2 separate regions of the Homo sapiens genome follow, and region 2 is linked to region 1. A link means that fine-mapping ties the variant in region 1 to the expression of a gene that starts in the linked region. Tissue or cell type: whole blood. Region 1 holds a variant in brackets; the other region holds the start of a gene. All regions are shown on one strand. Distances are from middle to middle.

Region 1 (10,420 bases):
CAACCCTCAGGGATTCAGTTACCTTTGCTTGACAGTGTCTCCCCAGTATGATCTCTGTCCCCATGCCACTCAGCCATTCACCAACACACCAACAAGCAACAGCTTTAGTCCACCACATGGATCAGCCTTATGGGCATGAAGAGCAGAAGGCAGTCCCAGTGGCAGGACCCAAGAGGTCCTCAGAAGGCCTCCATCCAAAAAAACCACCTGACACTAACCTGCCAAATTCCCTAAACATTCCCATCAACTAATTCACTGTGGTTTCAATCCTAGGGTTTAAGGAGGTTTCGGTGAAAATACCTCCAGAAGACAAGACATTGGCAGCCGTTGATTCCACTGCTAGAATTAACATGAGATTGTTCACTAATAAGACAATAGGCAGCAAGCTGGGCACGGAGGGAAGCAGACACGGAACAAATGAGATGTGGAAGAGGAGAATGGAGGGCAGAGGACCAGGTGCAGCGTATGATGGGGTCAGACAGACCACGTCCTTCTAGAGCAATCAGGGGGCAGGGCACGAGGGACAGAAGATCTCCGAAGCAATGAGGCAGCCTGAGTTCCCTCCTAGCCGGATGGAGACACAATGCTCCAGTAATAACATCTTGTATTTATAAAGGTCTTAGAGTTTACAAAGCCTGTCTCATAGCAATCACTTCATCTGGTCCTAACAACAACGAAAAATGGGCAGCACATGTATCCCCAGTCTAAGGTCAATGACTTCAAAGCCCACATGACTGACAGACTAGAAAGCTACAGAACTGGGTCCTTCTAACACCTCATCCAGCTCTTTTTATGGTGCAATGGTTACAAGTTCAGAGCTAAAATCCAAGTTCTATGACTGATTAGCTTTAGAATCTTGAACCCTCTGAGCCTGTTTCTCTTCTGCAAAATGGGGCATTATAAAGAGCTCCTGAGCAAATGCACATAAAGAGCTTAGCACAGTGCCTACCATATAAAAAACAAATAGCAGACATAAGCTATAGGTCTCATGACTAGTACACTGTGACATAGAGCAGTCGTTCTAACCCTGCCACCTACTAAAACCACCCGGTAGTCTCCCCAGCCTTACTGCTGCCCAGGCCTCACCCAAGACTATGAATCAGACTCTGCAAGTACATGGTCTAAACATTTGTATTTTTTTTTTTTTTTCCATTCTCTCTTGGGTGATTCTGATGCAAAGTGCCACGATTAAGAATAAATGACACAGGCCAGGTGTAGTGGCTCATGGCTGTAATCCCAGCGTTTTGGGAGGCTGAGGCAGGCAGATCACCTGAGGTCAGGAGTTCAAGACCAGCCTGGCCAACATGGTAAAACCTCATCTCTACCAAACATACAAAATTAGCCAGGCGTGGTAGTGCGTGCCTGTGATCCCAGCTACTCGGGAGGCTGAGGCAGGAGAATCACTTGAACTCGGGAGGCGGAGGTTGCAGCGAGCTGAAATTGTGCCACTGCACTCAAGCCTGGGTGACACAGCAAAACTCCGTCTCAAAAACAAAACAAACAAAAACAACAACAAAAAAACAAGGGCCGGGAGCTGTGGCTCACGCCTGTAATCCCAGCACTTTGGGAGGCCGAGGCAGGCAGATCACGAGGTCAGGAAATCGAGACCATCCTAGCTAACATGGTGAAACCCTGTCTCTACTAAAAATACAAAAAATTAGCCGGGCATGGTGGCGGGCGCCTGTAGTCCCAGCTACTCGGGAGGCTGAGGCAGGAGAGTGGTGTGAACCTGGGAGGCGGAGCTTGCAGTGAGCCAAGATTGCGCCACTGCACTCCAGCCTGGGCGACAGAGCAAGACTCCATCTCAAAAAATAAATAAATAAATAAATAAATAAATAAATAAGGAATAAATGATACAAAGCAGTTATTTCTTAAATTGTAATGTGCATTCAAATCACCTGATGATCTTGTTAGAATGCAAGTTTTAATTCTGTAGTTTGGGGTTCGGGTTGGAAAATTCTGAGTTTGTAACACACTGCCAGGTGATGCTGATGCTGCTTATCAGCAAGTCACACTGTAAAGGACACAGAGATGATCAGAGAAGAGGGGTGACAAAGGCAGGCAAGCGGGGACCAAAAACTAACAAAACAAACAAGGACCTGGTGGGAAGACTTCAGAGGTCCTCAGCCTAAATTCCTAGGTTGGCCCCTTCAGCATCATTAAGTGGCACAATTAATGAGAAGCAAAGAGCAGAGTCTGGTGCAAAACATGCTCTTCTCAAATGGGAACCATGACTATTCATCACGACTGCCTCATCACTACCAAGCAGAATAGTCTGAATGTTTTGTCCTCTTTCTGACCATCATCTGTCTACATGACCACTATTCCTCCATGAAACAAGCTCCCCGTCCTACCTATGTCCTTATTAATTTCTTGACTAAAAAGACTCTGCCTTCAGTGTAAAGCCCCTTCTAGAAGACAGTTTTTTGGTTTTTTTTTTTGAGACGGAGTCTTGCTCTGTCGCCCAGGCTGGAGTGCAGTGGCGTGATCTCGGCTCACTGCAACCTCCACCTCCCAGGTTCAAGCAATTCTCCTGCCTCAGCCTCCTGAGTAGCTGGGACTACAGGTGCCCGCCACCACAACGGCTACTTTTTTGTTGTTGTTGTTGTATTTTAGTAGAGATGGCATTTCACCTTGTTGCCCAGGCTGGTCTCAAACTCCTGAGCTCAGGCAATCCACCCACCTTGGCCTCCCAAAGTGCTAGGCTTACAGGCGTGAGCCACTGCACCCAGGCGACAGTACTTTCTTTTCACCTTTGATTCCTTTGCTCACCTGTTCTCTTTGACCAACCTGGACCACCACCTTCATCCACATACTTCACCCCTGTACCCTGGGACTGAATATGCCAGGGAAATATTGGGAACCACAGTAGATTGGCCCAGCACAGGCTTCTATCTTCATTTAAACCCTGCCCAGGAGACTGCCAACAGAGTATCACCCCTCCCTAACTGACTCTTAGGTTCATTTCTTCACAGAAGCAACTTAACATTTCATCTACCTTCCTGTATTTCACAGTTTCTTCATGGAACCTTGGATCGCCGCTCCTGAGAAGACTGGAACCCACAGGAAAATCAGTTTCATTTTCTTCAGCTTGTTCTAGGCAGTTGTTTGCAATCTGGGTTGTATATTAGAATCACCTGAGACCTCCCTGCCCCTCTGCCCCTCCACCGCAATCCCACTCTGGTTCACCTGTCAGAGGTGGAGTCTGACAATGCACGGCTAGGGTCCAAAACCACTGCCCTTGGGAAGCCACACTATTCCTAACTGGAAACCAACTAGAAACAAGCTCCTCTCCACGATAAATGCATCAACCCTAGCGTGGAAGATGAGGAGAGGCGGGTTTCCACCCAAGCTCATTGCCTTCTGTGATGGTTCCCACGATGAAGCTAAGGAAGTTCTAGAAACAGGGGGAGGCCAATTCTAAAGAGGTAGCAATTTACGGTTCATCAACCTCAGCCTTGGAAAGCCCGACCCGTCCTCCAGGTCTTCCAGCAGAACCGGGCTCAGAGCAGCTGTCAGCTCTTTGAAGTGTGAATCACTCACTGGCGAAGAATGGGGAGGAGGATCCAACTCCTTTGCCTCTGTGAGCCCCGGACCAGTCTTATTAGGACTCATGTTCTCAATATGCCAATTAAAAAAAAAAACAAAAAACTGCTTTGCCCACACAGAGAAGTAGTGACCTCAGGAGTTTAGAAGGCAGTTAACAAAGCAGAAAACTCAACCAAAGAATGCCAAAGAAATGTTCTGACTTCACCCACAGTCTCCCTTAGTATGTTCCACCCAAGATGGGATTCAGCTGAACATACCTGGTTTACTAAACCCAGAAAATTAACGAAAACTGGCCGGGCGCAGTGGCTCACACCTGTAATCCCAGCACTTTGGGAGGCCAAGGCGGGCGGATCACGAGGTCAGGAGATCGAGACCATCCTGACTAATACGGTGAAACCCCATCTCTACTAAAAATACAAAAAATTAGTCGGGCACGGTGGCGGTGGGCGCCTGTAATCCCAACTACTTGGGAGGCTGAGGCAGTAGAATGGTGGAAACCTGGGAGGTGGAGCTTGCAGAGAGCCAAGATCACGCCACTGCACTCCAGCCTGGGTGACAGAGCGAGACTCTGTCTCAAACAAACAAACAAAAATTAACGAAAACTAAATTGAGTAGAAAATTATAGTCAAACACCATAAATGAATAGAATAGATTTTGATTAATTCCTAAAGTAAGCCATTCAGGAAACAGCTGTAGTATCTGCAAAGAAGTCTTCGCCCACCAAGTAATCCCTGTAAATAAAAACATCCTACCTGATTAGATCTGGTTCGGCACCCTCATTCTTAAAGGATGCCAGAAGTAGTCTCTCTCGAGTTACAAGATCATCCAAGAGGTTCTGTCTTCGGTCCCCTTCAAGCTGTGTTCTGCAGATATCTTGTTAAGGTTCAATGGTGAATAAATGACCTCGTTTTAACTATTACATTATTAAGTTAGCTCTTCAAGTCAGTTGTGGCTTTTACAGACTGTAATCACTACTACCCAGAAGGGATGCGCACCACTCTTGCGTTTTTCCTGCTCTGACCTTCACCTTCACCAGGCCGTCAGGTAAAGGACCTTGGCAGGACCATCGCAGAGGCACTTATAAACACTGACGTGGATCATGACACAAGTTTTTCATTGAGAAATATACCAGGTAAATATTACTTTCCTCCCCGTGACCAAACTTATTTACTTATTTTTGAGACAGAGTCTCGCTCTGTCGCCCAGGCTGGAGTGCAATGGCGCGATCTCGGCCCACTGCAACCTCTGCCTCCCGGGTTCAAGCAGTTCTCCTGCCTCAGCCTCCCGAGTAGCTGGGCTTACAGACGTGCACCACCACAACCGGCTAAGTTTTGTATTTTTATTAGAGACGGGTTTTTGCCATGCTGGCCAGGCTGGTCTCGAACTCATGACCTCAGGTGATCTGCCTGCCTTGGCCTCCCAAAGTGCTGGAATTACAAGGCGTGAGTCACCACGCCCAGCCCCAGTGACCAAATTTAAATGACTT[C/T]TCCTGCCAATGGTGCAACCTGGCTCAGTGATTCCTTAGGTTTTGAGTTATATGTGTGTGTCAGTGTTCCAGGGCATTTTCCTACATATTAATACCCTAAGATGCTCTGTTTAAAAAAGTGGGGGCGCTGGGGGAGAGAAGTTCTCTATATTGCTCTCTTTCTTCCATGTTAATATCTATTAACACACCTAGGATATTTATAAAGTGCTACTTTATGCAACAGATTTGCTCTATAAATTGTTACCATCAGTTCACTATTTAAATACATTGCATGATTTGTAAAGAAAATTACAAAGAGAATCATTTTAATGTGTGAATCTAGCAAACACGCTAGACTAGGAGCCCCAGAGGCAGAGTTGTAGCCCTATTCCACTATCTATGCTCTTGAACCAGTTATTTCACCTTTTGGGATCTCTCTTTCTTTATATGTAACACTAAATAGTCTCTAACATCTTTTCCACAACAATTCATAAGTGATGGTTAAAAAAAAAAAACCAAACAACCATCCTTCTGGGAAATGTAGTCTTTGGAAAGAAACCTACAATTCACCAATAGGTGGACGAGAATGCGGCGCGTGCGCATGAAGCAAAAAGGGAAGTGGCGTCTGTCAACAACCGGCGCCACTTCCCTTGGACTAAGTACAAAGTTTTATATACTAGCTTTCTTGATGCAAACTACAAAAGTGGTTTTTTTTTTTTTTTTTTTTTTTTGGAGACGGAGCCTTGTTCTGTCTACAGGCTGGAGTGCAGTGGCGCGATCTCGGCTCACTGCAACCTCCGCCACCCGGGTTCAAGCGATTCTCCTGCCTCAGCCTCCTGAGTAGCTGGGACTACAGGCACGTGCCACCACGCGCAGCTAATTTTTTGTATTTTTGGTAGAGACAGGTTTTCACCATGTTGGCCAGGATGGTCTCGATCTCTTGACCTCATGATCCGTTCACCTCAGCCTCCCAAAGTGCTGGGATTACAGGTGTGAGCCAGTGCGCCCAGACACAAGTTTTTGTTTGTTTGTTTTTAGGCTGAACTGTGTCTATGTGTGTGGTATGTTAAGAAACACAGAAGGGCTGGACGCGGTGGCTCAACGCCTGTAATCCCAGCACTCTGGGAGGCTGAAGTGGGCGGATCACAAGGTCAAGAGATGGAAACCATCCTGGCAAACACGGTAAAACCCCGTCTCTACTAAAAATATAAAAACTAGCCAGGCGTGGTGGCGTGCGCCTGTAGTCCCAGCTACTCGGGAGGCTGAGGCAGGAAAATCGCTTGAACCCGGGAGGCGGAGGTTGCAGTGAGCCGAGATCGCGCCACTGCGCTCCAGCCTGGTGAAAGAGCGAGACTCTGTCTCAAAAAAAAAAAAAAAAAAAAGAAAAAAGAAACACAGTAAAGGATATGTTTGGAAACAACTTCTGCCATAAAATGAATGAGTGGAGAAAGCTAACAAACACTTTTAAAATATATCTGGCCAGGTGTGGTGGCTTACGCCTGTAATCCCAGCAGGTCAAGGCAGGTGGATCACGAGGTCAGGAGTTCGAGACCAGCCTGACCAATATGGTGAAACCCCATCTCTACTAAAAACACAAAAATTAGCTGGGCATGGTGGCGCACAATCGCAGCTACGCAGGAGGCTGAGGCAGGAGAATCACTTGAACCCGGGAGGCGGAGGTTGCAGTGAGCCGAGACTGTGCCACTGCACTCCAGCCTGGGTGACAGAGCAAGACTCCGTCTCAAAAAAAAAAAAGAAAAAAGAAAAGAAAAGAAAAGAAATACACACTAAAACAAGATACCACTTCCACCTATCAGATTAGGAAACTGAGAAGACAGTTTTGGAAAGGGACAAGGAACCAGACACTCTCATACATTCTTTCCTTTTCTTTTCTTTTCTTTTTTTTTTTTTTGTTTTGTTTTGTTAAGATGGAGTCTTGCTCTATCATCCCAGGCTGAAATGCAGTGTTGCAACCTTGGCTCACTGCAACCTCCACTACCTGGGTTCAAGCAATTCTCCTCTCAGCTCCCCAAGTAGCAGGGATTACAGGTGTCCACCACCACACCCAGCTAATTTTTGTGGGTTTTTTTGAGAGACAGGATTTCACCATGTTGGCCAGGCTGGTCTCAAACTCCTAATCTAAAGTGACCCTCCTGCCTCCCAAAGTGCTGGGATTACAAGCATGAGCCACTTCACCTGACCTTATACATTCTTTCTTTATTATTATTATTATTTTTTGAGACAGTGTCTCCCTCTGTCGCCCAGCCTGGAGTGCAGTGGCATGATCTTGGCTCACTGCAACCTCCAGCTCCAGAGTTTAAGCAATTCTCCTGCCTCAGCCTCCCAAGTAGCTGGGATTACATGCACATGCCACCATGCCCAGCTAATTTTTGTGTTTTCAGTAGAGATGGGGTTTCACCATGTTGTCCAGGCTGGTCTCGAACTCCTGACCTCAAGTGATCCACCCACCTCGGCCTCCCAAAGTGCTGGGATTACAGGCATGAGCCACCATACCCGGCCACCTCATACATTCTTGATAGGAATGCAAACAGGTTCAACCAACTGCTAGACTGCCTTCTAAATACCTAACAAAATATAAAAGGTACAGTCTTTCAACAGACATTTCTTCCTCAGATACAGTCCTACAAGGACTTAGAAGCAAGGATGTCCACTGAACCATTATTTATAATAGCCACATTGGAAATATCAATAAGTAACTAGTGTATGTAAACAATGGAATGTTTTGCAGCCTTAAAAAAAGAATAGGAAAGCTGTTTAGGGGGCTGATAATGATAATTAACATTTTTGAGCACTTACTAAGTGTTTACATGAATTATTTGACATGGAATAATCTACAAAATATAACATTAAACCAAAGGAGGGGAAAAAAACAGCAGCAGCAAGGAGCTAAACAGTGAGTAGTGTGCTCCCACTTTGTTAAAAAAAAATCCTAACTATATATGTGTGTATATACACACAGAAAATTTCTGATATATAAACATTGCCTCTAAGGAAGGACAACTGAGGATTAAGGGTATAAGAGAGACTGATGTTTCACTGAATATTGTTTCCTAATGTTTGTCTCTATCATCTGCTAATTAATAAAAACACAAGCTTCAGAACCATATGTATAATATAATCCCTTTATAGTCAAAGGAATTTTATGTTTACATATGCATATATTTCAAGCCTAGAAAAGTCTGAGATACTAGCTACCAACCATTAACACTTAACTATAAAGAATGAGATGAGACAGGATAGAATAAGGAAGAGAAAGAGGAGTCATTGGTAATAACTAATGAGAAATGTATCAGTAGAAAGTATAATATTTTTTGTAATAAAAACAATAAAGGTACATTTTAAAATCAGCAGATACTAGTTACAGATTTAAACTTACGTCAAGAAGGAGCTAACAAAGAACATCAGTTTCAGAAACAGTAAAACTTGATGACTATGTTTTGTAGATGAGTAACCAAAGAACAGAAACCCACACAGTTGATGCTAGAAGAGGCCTTAAAGATCCCAGTTCTCTTGTTTTGCTGACCAGAAATTAAGGGTGAGCATGGCTAAGTCACTTGCCTGGGTTAACAGCCATGCTAGGTGACAGCTCTTTCAACCCTAGCTCATGGCTTTTCCACCAAACATTCTGCAGACTTCTCCACCTTGAGATGCTGACTTAACTTTGCCACTTCTTAGAATCCTGATAAAAACAATACTGGGAGTACGAATTCAGAATATTCCCAGAGACTCTGTAAATCTGGAAAACAATCCAATTAGGAACATGCTGCCTCTTTGTTTTATATTTTAATCTACGGAGAGAACAGAGCATAAGGAGATGGGGAGGAGGGAGATGGAATGAGAATAAATTGATTAATGAACCATCTGCATAGCACCCTTGCTATGTAAGGGTTGTTATTAGTAAGAGGTCAAAGGATCATCCAGGAAACAATCTATACAGCATGTATGTGGACAGGTGCGTAGCAGTTGGGTAAAGTAGGGTAGTGGGGAAACAGTGTGCCTGAGTGATGCTAAGGACAAGTAGAAAGTAGGACACACAGGCCAAGCGCGGTGGCTCAAGCCTGTAATCCCAGCACTTTGGAAGGCTGAGGCAGGCGGATCATGAGGTCAGGAGTTCGAGACCAGCCTGGACAACACGGTGAAACCCCATCTGTACTAAAAAAATACAAAAATTAGCTGGGTGTGGTGGCACACGCCTGTAGTCCCAGCTACTCAGGAGGCTGAGGCAGGAGAATCGCTGGAACCCGGGAGGCAGAGGTTGCAGTGAGCCAAGATCGTGCCACTGCACTCCAGCCTGGGCAACAAAGTGAGACTCCATCTCAAAAAAAAAAAAAAGTAGTACAGCACACAGTCAGTGGCCAGTGCTGGGGAACCTCCTCTTCCACCAACCTGGTGAATAGCCAAGGAAGAAGATAAGAGAACAGACAGATAAAGAAAAGGAAGAGAAGAGCTAACTATCATAGTACTTTGTCCTTGGCTATGCTGATTGTACATGTAATTATAGCCAATTCATGGATATGTAAGGTTGTAAATAAAACTGGATCCCCTGTAGTCCCAGCTACTCGGGAGGCTAAGGCAGGAGAATGGCGTGAACCCGGGAGGTGGAGCTTGCAGTGAGCCAAGATCGTGCCACTGCACTCGAGCCTGGGTGACACAGCGAGACTCCATCTCAAAAAATAAATAAATAAAAATAAAAATAAAACTGGATCCTGATTTCATATTACTGATACCTACTACCAGCATGCATAAGTCCAGCTTCTCTGCTGTAGCCTGGTGAGCATTTGAACCACAGATGGAGCGGGGTAAATATGCAACTGGATCCACAGGTCACCCAATCCCACTCCAGCTCCTGGATTTTCTCTTATATTTGGTAGAAGGCTTAAGAATTTAGGCTGGGCACAGTCGCTCACACCTGTAATCCCAGCACTTTGGGATGTTGAGGTGGGTGAATCACCTGAGGTCAGGAGTTTGAGACCAGCCTGGCCAACATGGCAAAACCCCATCTCTACCAAAAACACAAAAATTAGCCAGGTGTAGTGGTGCACACCTGTAATCCCAGGTACTTGGGAGGCTGGGGTAGGAGAATCGCTTGAACCTGTGAGGCGGTGGTTGCAGTGAGCTGAGATCGCACCATTGTGCTCCAGACTGGGCAACAAGAGTGAAACTCCGTCTCAAAAAAAAATAGAATTTAGGTAAGCCTTATTTTGTGAAAGAGCTGCTCTGGCGAAGGAAGAAGTTTGCAGATAATTAATTCTCCATGCCAAAAAAGAAGAACTGCAAGGGAACAGTTTAAGGTTCTAGAGGTCAAAAGACTTTTCTGGCTTTCTTTTTTTAAGTCAACAAACTCTAATAAATATTTATGATGTACCAGGCCAAGTCCTTACCTTC
Region 2 (9,190 bases), 30 kb after region 1:
CTGCGTGGTGGCCCTGGAAGCCTGTTAAGTATAAAATGGTAGAGATGAGTAGAAGCTAGTTTCTGCAGAGCCTTGAACACCAGTCTAACAAGGTTAGACTTAAAGGAGAATTTCAGAGCCATAGAGAACACTTTTACACACAGAGAGTGGCCCTAAAGAGGTTATGAGAAATGCACACAGCTAGCACAAACTCCCAGGTGTCCTGACTCCAGTCCTTGTGTTGTTATTTTAGCCCTAAAGAGCAATAGTTCTGAAACAAGTTGGAATCACTGGGGAATCTTTAAAAAAATAACAATGCCTGGTCCCAACCTCAGCATTCTGACTCAACTGGTATGGGGTTTGTCCTGGGCGTGCGTGGGGAGCTTTAAAAGCTCTCCAAGTGATTCCAATCTGCGGTAAAGTCCGGGCGGGAACCCTTGGCCTGGGGCAATAGACAACCTCATTACACTATCAAGCACACAGGTGCCTGAAGTACTAGTTTAGAAAAAGTAATTGGGTCGGGGGGTGGCTGAGGCAGGAGAATCGCTGGAACCCGGGAGGCAGAGGTTGCAGTTTGCCGAGATTGTGCCATCGCACTCCAGCCTGGGGGACAAGAGCAAGACTTTGTCTCAAAAAAAAAAAAAAAAAAAAGTAATCTGGGCCGGGCATAGGCGTAGTGGCTCACACCTGTAATCCCAGCACTTTGGGAGGCCAAGACGGGTGATCACCTGAGGTCAGGAGTTCAAGACCAGCCTGGCCAACATGGCAAAACCCCATCTCTACTAAAAATACAAAAATTAGCCGGGCATGGTGGCGGGTGCTTGTAATCCCAGCTACTCGGGAGGCTGAGATAGGAGAATCACTTGAACTCAGGAGGCAGAGGTTGCAGTGAGCCAAGATCATGCCACTGCACTCCAGCCTGGGCGACGGAGCAAGACTCCATCTCAAAATTAAAAAAAAAAAAGGTGTGGAGGGTAGAGATGAAACAAGAATGGCAGAATATTGATAATCACAGAAATTGGGTGGTGAGTATGAAAGGGGCCCATTATACTATTCTAGTTTGTGTATCTTTTACCTTCCAAAATAAAGTTTTTAAAAAGCAATTCAACACAAAGAAGACCATGCTACCAACATAAAAAGTCCAATCAGGATATAAAACTATTAAGGTTTAACTGTAATTTTTCTGGAAATGGTACATCATCAACAAATTAGTTACCCTGGAGGTAAAGCTAATTAACATTAGCAAAGAGCCAGTTCAGAGACAGTGATCATGGGCTCCTTCTGTTAAACAGCGAGCTTACCACTTGCTTTGATAGGCCATTAAAATAGTAACTGCTATATTCCATTGCTAGACACTGAGGGAGGTGCCAATGACCTATGATTTTAGCAACACAAAGGTAAAGCTGTAGTTGAATCTGTTTTTATAGGTTGTTTTTGTTTGTTTGTTTTGTTTTGTTTTGACATGGAGTCTCGCTCTGTCGCCCAGGCTGAAGTGCAGTGGCGCAATCTCGGCTCACTGCAACCTCCACCTCCTGGGTTCAAGTGATTCTCCTGCCTCAGCCTCCTGAGTAGCTGGGATTACAGGTACACACCAACATGCCCAGCTAATTTTTGCGTTTTTAGTAGAGACGGGGTTTCACCATGTTGGTCAGGCTGGTCTCGAACTCCTGACCTTATGATCCGCCTGCCTCAGCCTCCCAAAGTGCTAGGATTACAGGTGTGAGCCACCACACCTGGCCTTTTATAGGTTTTTCAAGTCCCTTCCCATACTCCTTTCTACCCCCCTAATCAGCGACCCATTTTGTGCTTTGGGAGCACAGCTGAGTGTCTCACTGTTTCACTCTCAATAGTCCAATGAGAAAGCCACTTCATCAAACTAATGAAGTATAACAGAAAAAGTCTCAATGCTTTATCAACATTAACTGCGGAAGAAGCTTGGGGTCCAGTGATAGCTTCCACCAATCTAAATAGATAACTGGGGGCCTGTCCCTTATCTTTGACCTTTATTTCCTACTTGATTTGTAAACTGAGGGATTTAGGTTCCAGAAGGTGGAGGGCAACTTAGGAATATGTATTGTAAACCAAAATAAAATTCTAAGCCCACCCCCAACACCCCCCCCCACCCCCGCAACCATCTGAACGGACCCCTACTCTAAGGCAAGGGCATTCCAAAGTTAACCTGAAACACTGGTTCAGGCCATGATGGGAAGAGGGGATCAGACATGCCTCATTATATATCCTCTCCTCCTTTTTGGAATTCAGGAAAAGCCAACCAGCATTAACGTCAATACAGACCTTAAGTCTGATAAGAAACACTTACAATGTATTCTCTCTAAAGCCTGCTACCCAGAGGCTTCATTTGCATAATAAAATCTTGGTCTCCACTACCCCTTATCATAACCCAGACATTCGTTTCTATTGATAATAACTCAACCAATTGCCAATCAGAAAATTTTTCAATCTACTTATGACCTGGAAGCCCCCCACGCCCTTCGAGGTGTCCCTCCCTTCTGGATTGAGCCATCATAAATCTTACATGTATTAATTCATGTATTATTCTCCCTAAATTGTATAAAAGCAAGCTGTTCCCCAACCACCTTGGGCACAGGTCTTCAGAACCTCCTGAGGCTGTGTCATGGGTGCATTCTTAACCTTGGCAAAATAAACTTTCTAAATTGACTGAGACCTGTCTCAGATACTTTGGGGTTCACAGTATCAAGGGCCTTAAAAATGTTTATACCCTTGAGCCCAACAGTTCTATTTCACTTTCAACAGTCTAATGAGAAAGCCACTTAGTCAAACTGATTGAGAATAACAAAAAAAGTATAAATGCTTCACTTTCAACAGTTCTAATTCCTACTTCTAGACAGGGAGCCCAAGGAAATAAGAGATAGAACAAAGGGACTCCCTTTGCAATGATAAAACAAAACAAAACATCAGAAAAACAAAAAACTAATAGGAGAAAAATAAATTATGGTCATTCATGTGATGCATTATTTTGCAACATAAGACAATTATGAGGCCAGGTGCGGTGGCTCACACCTGTAATCCCAGCACTTTGGGAGGCCAAGGCGGGCAGATTGCCTGAGCTCAGGAGTTCAAGATCAGCCTAGGCAACACGGTAAAACCCTGTCTCTACTAAAATACAAAAAATTAGCTGGGCGTGGCTGCGTGCGCCTGTAGTCCCAGCTACTCCAGAGGCTGAGGCAGGAGAGTTGCTTAAGCCCAGGAGGTGGAGGTTGCAGTGAGCCATGATCGCGCCATTGCACTCCAGCCTGGGTGACAGACAGAGCAAGACTCCGTCTCAAAAAAAAAAAAAAGAAGAAAAGAAAGTTATGCTTTCAAAGAATGTCCAATGACATAGAGAAATGCTGTTTATATTATATATATATATAAAAATATAGATTAAAATAACAAATTCATTGTAAAAAAATCATTAATGGCTATTTCCAAATTATAGAGTTAAAGATGCTATTTATTTTCCTTTTTGCAAATTTTCAATATTCTCTAAATTGAATATTCTCTATCAAGGGGTGTATATAACTGTTAAAATTAGGGATTTTGGGGTTTTTTATTTTTTTTTGAGACGGAGTTTCGCTCGTGTTGCCCAGGCTGGAGTGCAATGGCACGATCTCAGCTCACCACAACCTACACCTCCCGGGTTCAAGCGATTCTCCTGCCTCAGTCTCCCGAGTAGCTGGGATTACAGGCATGTACTACCATGCCCGGCTAATTTTGTATTTTTAGTAGAGACGGGGTTTCTCCATGTTGGTCAGGCTGGTCTCGACCTCCCGACCTCAGGTGATCTGCCTGCCTCGGCCTCCCAAAGTACTGGGATTACAGGCGTGAGCCACCACCGCGTCCGGCCTAAAATTAGGTTTAAAAAAGTAAATGCTAAATTAAATAATTGGCCCAAATAACCTAGATTCCAGGTAACTCAACTTTGTTCTTGGAATCCATTCTTCTAATATCCAGGATGTGGGCAACTTAAACAATTATAAACTATATTAGAAATAACAACATAAGACACATATTCCAACAAGAACGTTATAGAGCTGTAATATGTTTTTAATTATTAAGCAGAAAGGTCAAGTCTATGTTCAATAACAATACGTTCCTTGGGATCAAACAATATGTTCCTTGGGATCAAAAGTTGCATCTTTCATCATGCAGTCCTTGGGATTAACTGCTAAATAAATCACCCTTATCAGCTATTGTTTTACTGCAGAAGCTACTGCTAAAGGAAAAGACTTCATGATATTAACTCAAGAAAGTGCAAAATGCCTTATAAACAAGTGCACAATTTCCCTCCCAGGTTCCTGTATCTGGAAGGGCCCCCAAGATCTAGGTCTTAGCCCCAGCTGGTTACTAACTGGCTGGTGGCCATGGATTCTGAACCTCGGTTTCTCCACCTGTGAAATAAGGGGGTTTACCGGGATGGACTGACATGCTACAAAAACGTTATTTCGACTTCACTTTTATAGGAGTCCAGGGAAGCCTGCACCAGCCAGCTAGCTCCAAAACCAGGATGGGCGGGAAATCCCCGCAACGAGATGCAGCCCAGAAAAGCTAAAGGAATATTCAGAGATTTGGCGTAAGTCCTCAGCTCTCCAGCGGACCACCTGGTCTCCTTCCCGGGCCACCCTTGCAAGGACCAAGTGTGGCGGGATGTGGCTGAGCCCCCTCAGTAAAGGAAAGGTCTCGCTGCCCCTCCCCTCATCCCGAAAGGCCACCAGCGGCAATGCGAAGTGATTGCCTGCTCTCCGGAAGCCCGGCCTCCCCGAAGGTCCCTCCACGCACCGCCGCCCTCACCCGGGACTCACCAGGGGTCCGGTGCCATCCTGCAGACTCCGCCCGCCGCTCGGACTCTTCCTGCTCTTAGCAGCTGACTACGGCGGCCCGCGCGGCTCACTCCCCGCAGTTCGTCCCGTGCGCGACCGGAGCCTGGAGTTTGCAAAGTGAGTAGCTAGGGCCTCAGAACTATAATCAGAGAAAGCAAAGCGCTCCCCTGCGGACAGTACACTGGAGCAATCTACTCCCACCAAGAGACGCGAACTGCTAAGCTCAGTTAAAATTGTTAAATAGAAACAAAGCATTTTCCCAGGAAGGTGGGAGCGCTGCAAGACCTCTCTGTAGCAGTTACTTAAAAATTTATCCTGCTTCAAAAACAAAACAATAAACAAAACACTAGATTGCGGTGAGACTTGCACGCTGCGTAAACTCACTACAACCTACTTTAAGTTAACTTTATGATATGTAAATTATACCTCAACGCTTTTTAAAAAATCTTTAAAATTTTTTTCACACTGCTCCAAACAGGGGCCCAAAGAAGTATCAATTATATATATTTTTTATAGCAGCCTTCCTATCAGTCCTGTACGCCTGATTACATATTTTTTAAATGCCATTCATTCGGTGCTTGATTTTAGAGTTACTAAGAAGTCACAGACTCTACACAAGGGGATGGAGGAATTAGTTCTGCGCAGTTAGTGCCATCCCCTAAATTTCCAGAGAAATAGCACAAAAAAAAAGAAGAGGAGTCCCACCCCATCTCTCTTCCAGTCCCCATACCCCTTCATTTCCAAGAATGCTAATGAACTCGAACTCGGCAGGCTGGGTTTCTGCGCGGGCGTGGAGCTGGAGCGCATGCGCTCGTCCGTTACCATAACGACCAGAAGACGCTGCAGCCACTAGGGAGGAGAGCAAAGTAATCAGAACCTCCCAAGGATGGATAACAAAATTTCGCCGGAGGCCCAAGTGGCGGAGCTGGAACTTGACGCCGTGATCGGCTTCAATGGTGAGGCCTCCAGCATCTTTGGGCTGGCTGGTTTAGGAATTCGGAGGACGTGTAGTGCAAACAGGAATAGTGAGACACCGGGGACACCTGAAAGGCAGTGTGGGACAACGGCAGGAGCCCTGGCCAGGGACACGCACAGGAGGACCCGCACAGCCTGACCTGCCCCAAGGCCTTGGAGAGTCACTTCCTCGATCCAAGCCTCAGGGAGTGAGATGGTTTTTACCAGCTCGGACAAGCGCCAGCACCTAAAAGGGACCAAATGCCTCTTCCCCAGGCGGGCCGGATGAGTACGGGTGGTTGTAACCCTTCTCCCACTAGGTCAGCCCTTCCTGGCTCTGAACCCCACGCCGCTCGCAAAGCCCTAGGCTCCTTCGTAACCACACAGAAGGATGCTGTCTGTGTCGGCCCCTGGGACCAGCTAGGAAATCTGCTAAAATCCCAACTGGCGTACCAGTGAGAAAGGGCTGGGAGGGAACGTGTGTTTGAGCAACCCCCTGAGGGGATGTTGTTGGTCCTCTAATCCTAAGGAAGGTTTCTAAATGATGAGGATTTCAGACCAGGACAGAAGGGGAAGGGGACGCCAGGGGGAGCTAAAGCGGAGAGAAAAAGGGACTGGGCCGCTCCGCTGAAATCTTATTTGTGACTGCCTATTGTTTTGAAGATTCTGGGAAGAAAAAGCTGTGGGGTTTTATTGTTCGTTTTGAGGGGTTTTGGTTTTTTGAGGGATGAGAAAACAATGAATTAGATTTTAGGAGAAGCAAAACTTTTCAAAAATGTGTGTTGTGATGCCTGAAAGCTTTAAGAATGTGGATGCAGAACAATCACTGTCTAAAGTTTTAAGCATACTCTAGGACTTAGCTCTTGACTCTTGGTTTAACTTTAACAGTCTCCAATAGAAAGTGAGTGCTTTATACATTTCGGATATCAGATATCTTGAGAGTTGGTTACAAGATCATTGAGAAACAATTGAGCAGCCTACAGTGGGTTGCATAATGTCACTTGTTGAGCCAATGTAGAACCACACACATAGAACTCTGCAACTGAGGCCGGGGGCAGTGGCTCATGCCTGTAATCCCAGCGCTTTGGGAGGCCAAGGCAGGTAGATCACCTGAGGTCAGGAGTTCGAGACCATCCTGTCCAACATGGTGAAATCCCATCTATACTAAAAATACAAAAATTATCCGGGCGTGGTGGTAGGTGCCTGTAATCCCAGCTACTTGAGAGGCTGAGGGAGGAGAATCACTTGAACTTGGGAGGCAGAGGTTGCAGTGAGCCAAGGTCACGCCACTGCACTCCAGCCTGGGGGACAGAGCGAGACTCCGTCTCAAAAAATAAATAAATAAATAAACAAACAAACATACATATTCAACAGGTTATAGGAGGAGCTATGAATACTCATGAAGGTGGTCCCAACACATGTGTATTGAACAAACATTGATGTAATATATCACTCATATTCACCTTGGGATGGAGACCTAACATTTAAATGTATTACAATTAGGTCCTATATGTCAAAAGGCCTTTTCAGGACATGACGGCACGTTAAGTGGGAAGCCTCAGTAAACTGGCCAGAGGTAGTCCGTGGTGAGTGGTCTTCTTGCCAGGAGAACATTACTGAAATCACTCTGTTGTCCAATCAAAATTGTTCTTATGGCGGGTTGAACAGGGCTTCAGTTAGTAAGTGCCTATGAACTGGACAGGTTGCAGTTGTTTTCATATTGCTTATCTCAAGATAAGTGCTTGTTTAGCTGCCAGAGAAAAAGAAAAACCTTGTGGCAGTGTATAGTTTATTTTATTTATTTATTTTGAGACGGTGGAGTCTCGCTCTGTTGTGTAATGGCACAATCTCGGCTCACTGCAACCTCCACCTCCTGGATTCAAGCTATTCTCCTGCCTCAGCCTCCAGAGTAGCTGGGATTATAAGCACCCACCACCACGCCTGGCTAATTTTTGTATTCTTAGTAGAGACGGGGTTTCACCAAGTTGGCCAGACTAGTCTCCAATTCCTGACCTCAGGTGATCCACCCGCCTTGGCCTCCCAAAGTGCTGGGATTACAGGCTTGAGCCACCACACCCAGCCACAGGGTGGAGGGGTGCATGGCCTTAGGTCCTGTTTATAATTTGATATCTTATTGCCACACAGTCTGTCAATCTTATGATCTCTATTTTAACATTAATGCTGATCAGTTGTGTCTAAACCACAAAAGAGAGGGGGTATAATGAGGCATGTCTGACCTCCCATTCCGTCAAGGCTGGGAACTCTGCTTTAAGGTGTTTTGGGGGTCCCTTTGTCCAAAAGGGGATCTGTTCAGTCAGTGGCTGGGGTGGGGCAGCGTGGGGATTGGGGAGCTTATGATTTTATTTTTAGTTTACAAAAGTGATTGAGTTTTCTGTATTTTGTCTTCACTGAAAAATGTTTATTTTAAAAAACTATACTAGCTCTAAAAAAAAGAGGGAGAGAGAGAAAAGACAGAACTTTCATAAGGCTCGGGAGAGAAGATTTTGACTAGGAGTCAGCGGGTAAAGATTGAAGGCAGAATATTTCGGGTTACAGCAATAGCGGGGGGCAGAGGAGGAAAAGTGGAGAGTGCAGGGCCTGGTTGCAGAACGGCAAATAGCTTGGGGTGGCTTCAGTATCAGGGACTGGCAGGATAACACAGGAAAGAGAAGCTGGAATTAGATTTCAGAGGCCTTAAATGCCAAGTGATTGAGTTTAGATTTCAGATGGAAACAAATTAGAAACAAAAGCAAGGCCCCTTTTTTCACTGCAACACTGAAACTCACTATAGTGTTACATTATTCAACTTGAATTTTGTTTTTGAGATGGAGTCTCACCCTGTCTCCCAGGCTGGAGTGCAGTGGTGCGATCTCAGCTCACTGCAACCTCTGCCTCATGGGTTCAAGTGATTCTCCTGCCTCAGCCTCCCAAGTAGCTGGGATTACAGGTATCCACCACCACGCCTGGCTAATTTTTGTATTTTTAATAGACACGGTGTTTCGCCACGTTGGCCAGGCTGGTCTTGAACTCCTGACCTCAGGTGATCCACCCGCCTCGGCCTCCCAAAGTGCTGGGATTACAGGCGTGAGCCACTGCGACTGGCCTTAAACTTGAATTTTAACTTTATGGTATCAATATGTAACTGTACTTGACACTTGTAGGTATTGCATTTTGGCAGGAATTAATTATTTAAGCAAACCAAATATACTTGTGTTAAAAACATTTAATAAAGTTATAGTTATTAAGGGTTTGGTCACATTCATCCATTGACTGGAGTAGGTAGCCCATGATTTTCCTATTATGGTATACAAAGAGTTCTTGTAAACTAAAAACAGCAACAACAACAAAATAGATCAGGAGTCTACAAACTATAGCCCATGGGCCAAATCTGGCCCACTGCCTGTTTTTGTAAATAA

What was found. PIP is the estimated chance that this variant, and not a neighbour inherited with it, causes the effect.
Region 2: it holds the start of STX8, and the variant in region 1 is fine-mapped to the expression of STX8 in whole blood (TOPMed, PIP above 0.99).

Annotation. Positions count from the first base shown.
Region 1 is chr17:9,540,871-9,551,290 of GRCh38, forward strand. STX8 (syntaxin 8) reads right to left here. Exons shown (of 8, transcript NM_004853.3): 4 at 4,302-4,412. Among named protein-coding and RNA genes, the nearest start is that of STX8, 30 kb to the right of the region's middle. The variant C/T (reference allele first, on the strand shown) is at 5,036.
Region 2 is chr17:9,570,990-9,580,179 of GRCh38, forward strand. STX8 (syntaxin 8) reads right to left here and starts at 4,831. Exons shown (of 8, transcript NM_004853.3): 1 at 4,803-4,831. The coding sequence starts at 4,819. CFAP52 (cilia and flagella associated protein 52) reads left to right here and starts at 5,653. Exons shown (of 14, transcript NM_145054.5): 1 at 5,653-5,776. The coding sequence starts at 5,707. RefSeq lists enhancers at 4,814-4,993, 5,786-5,915.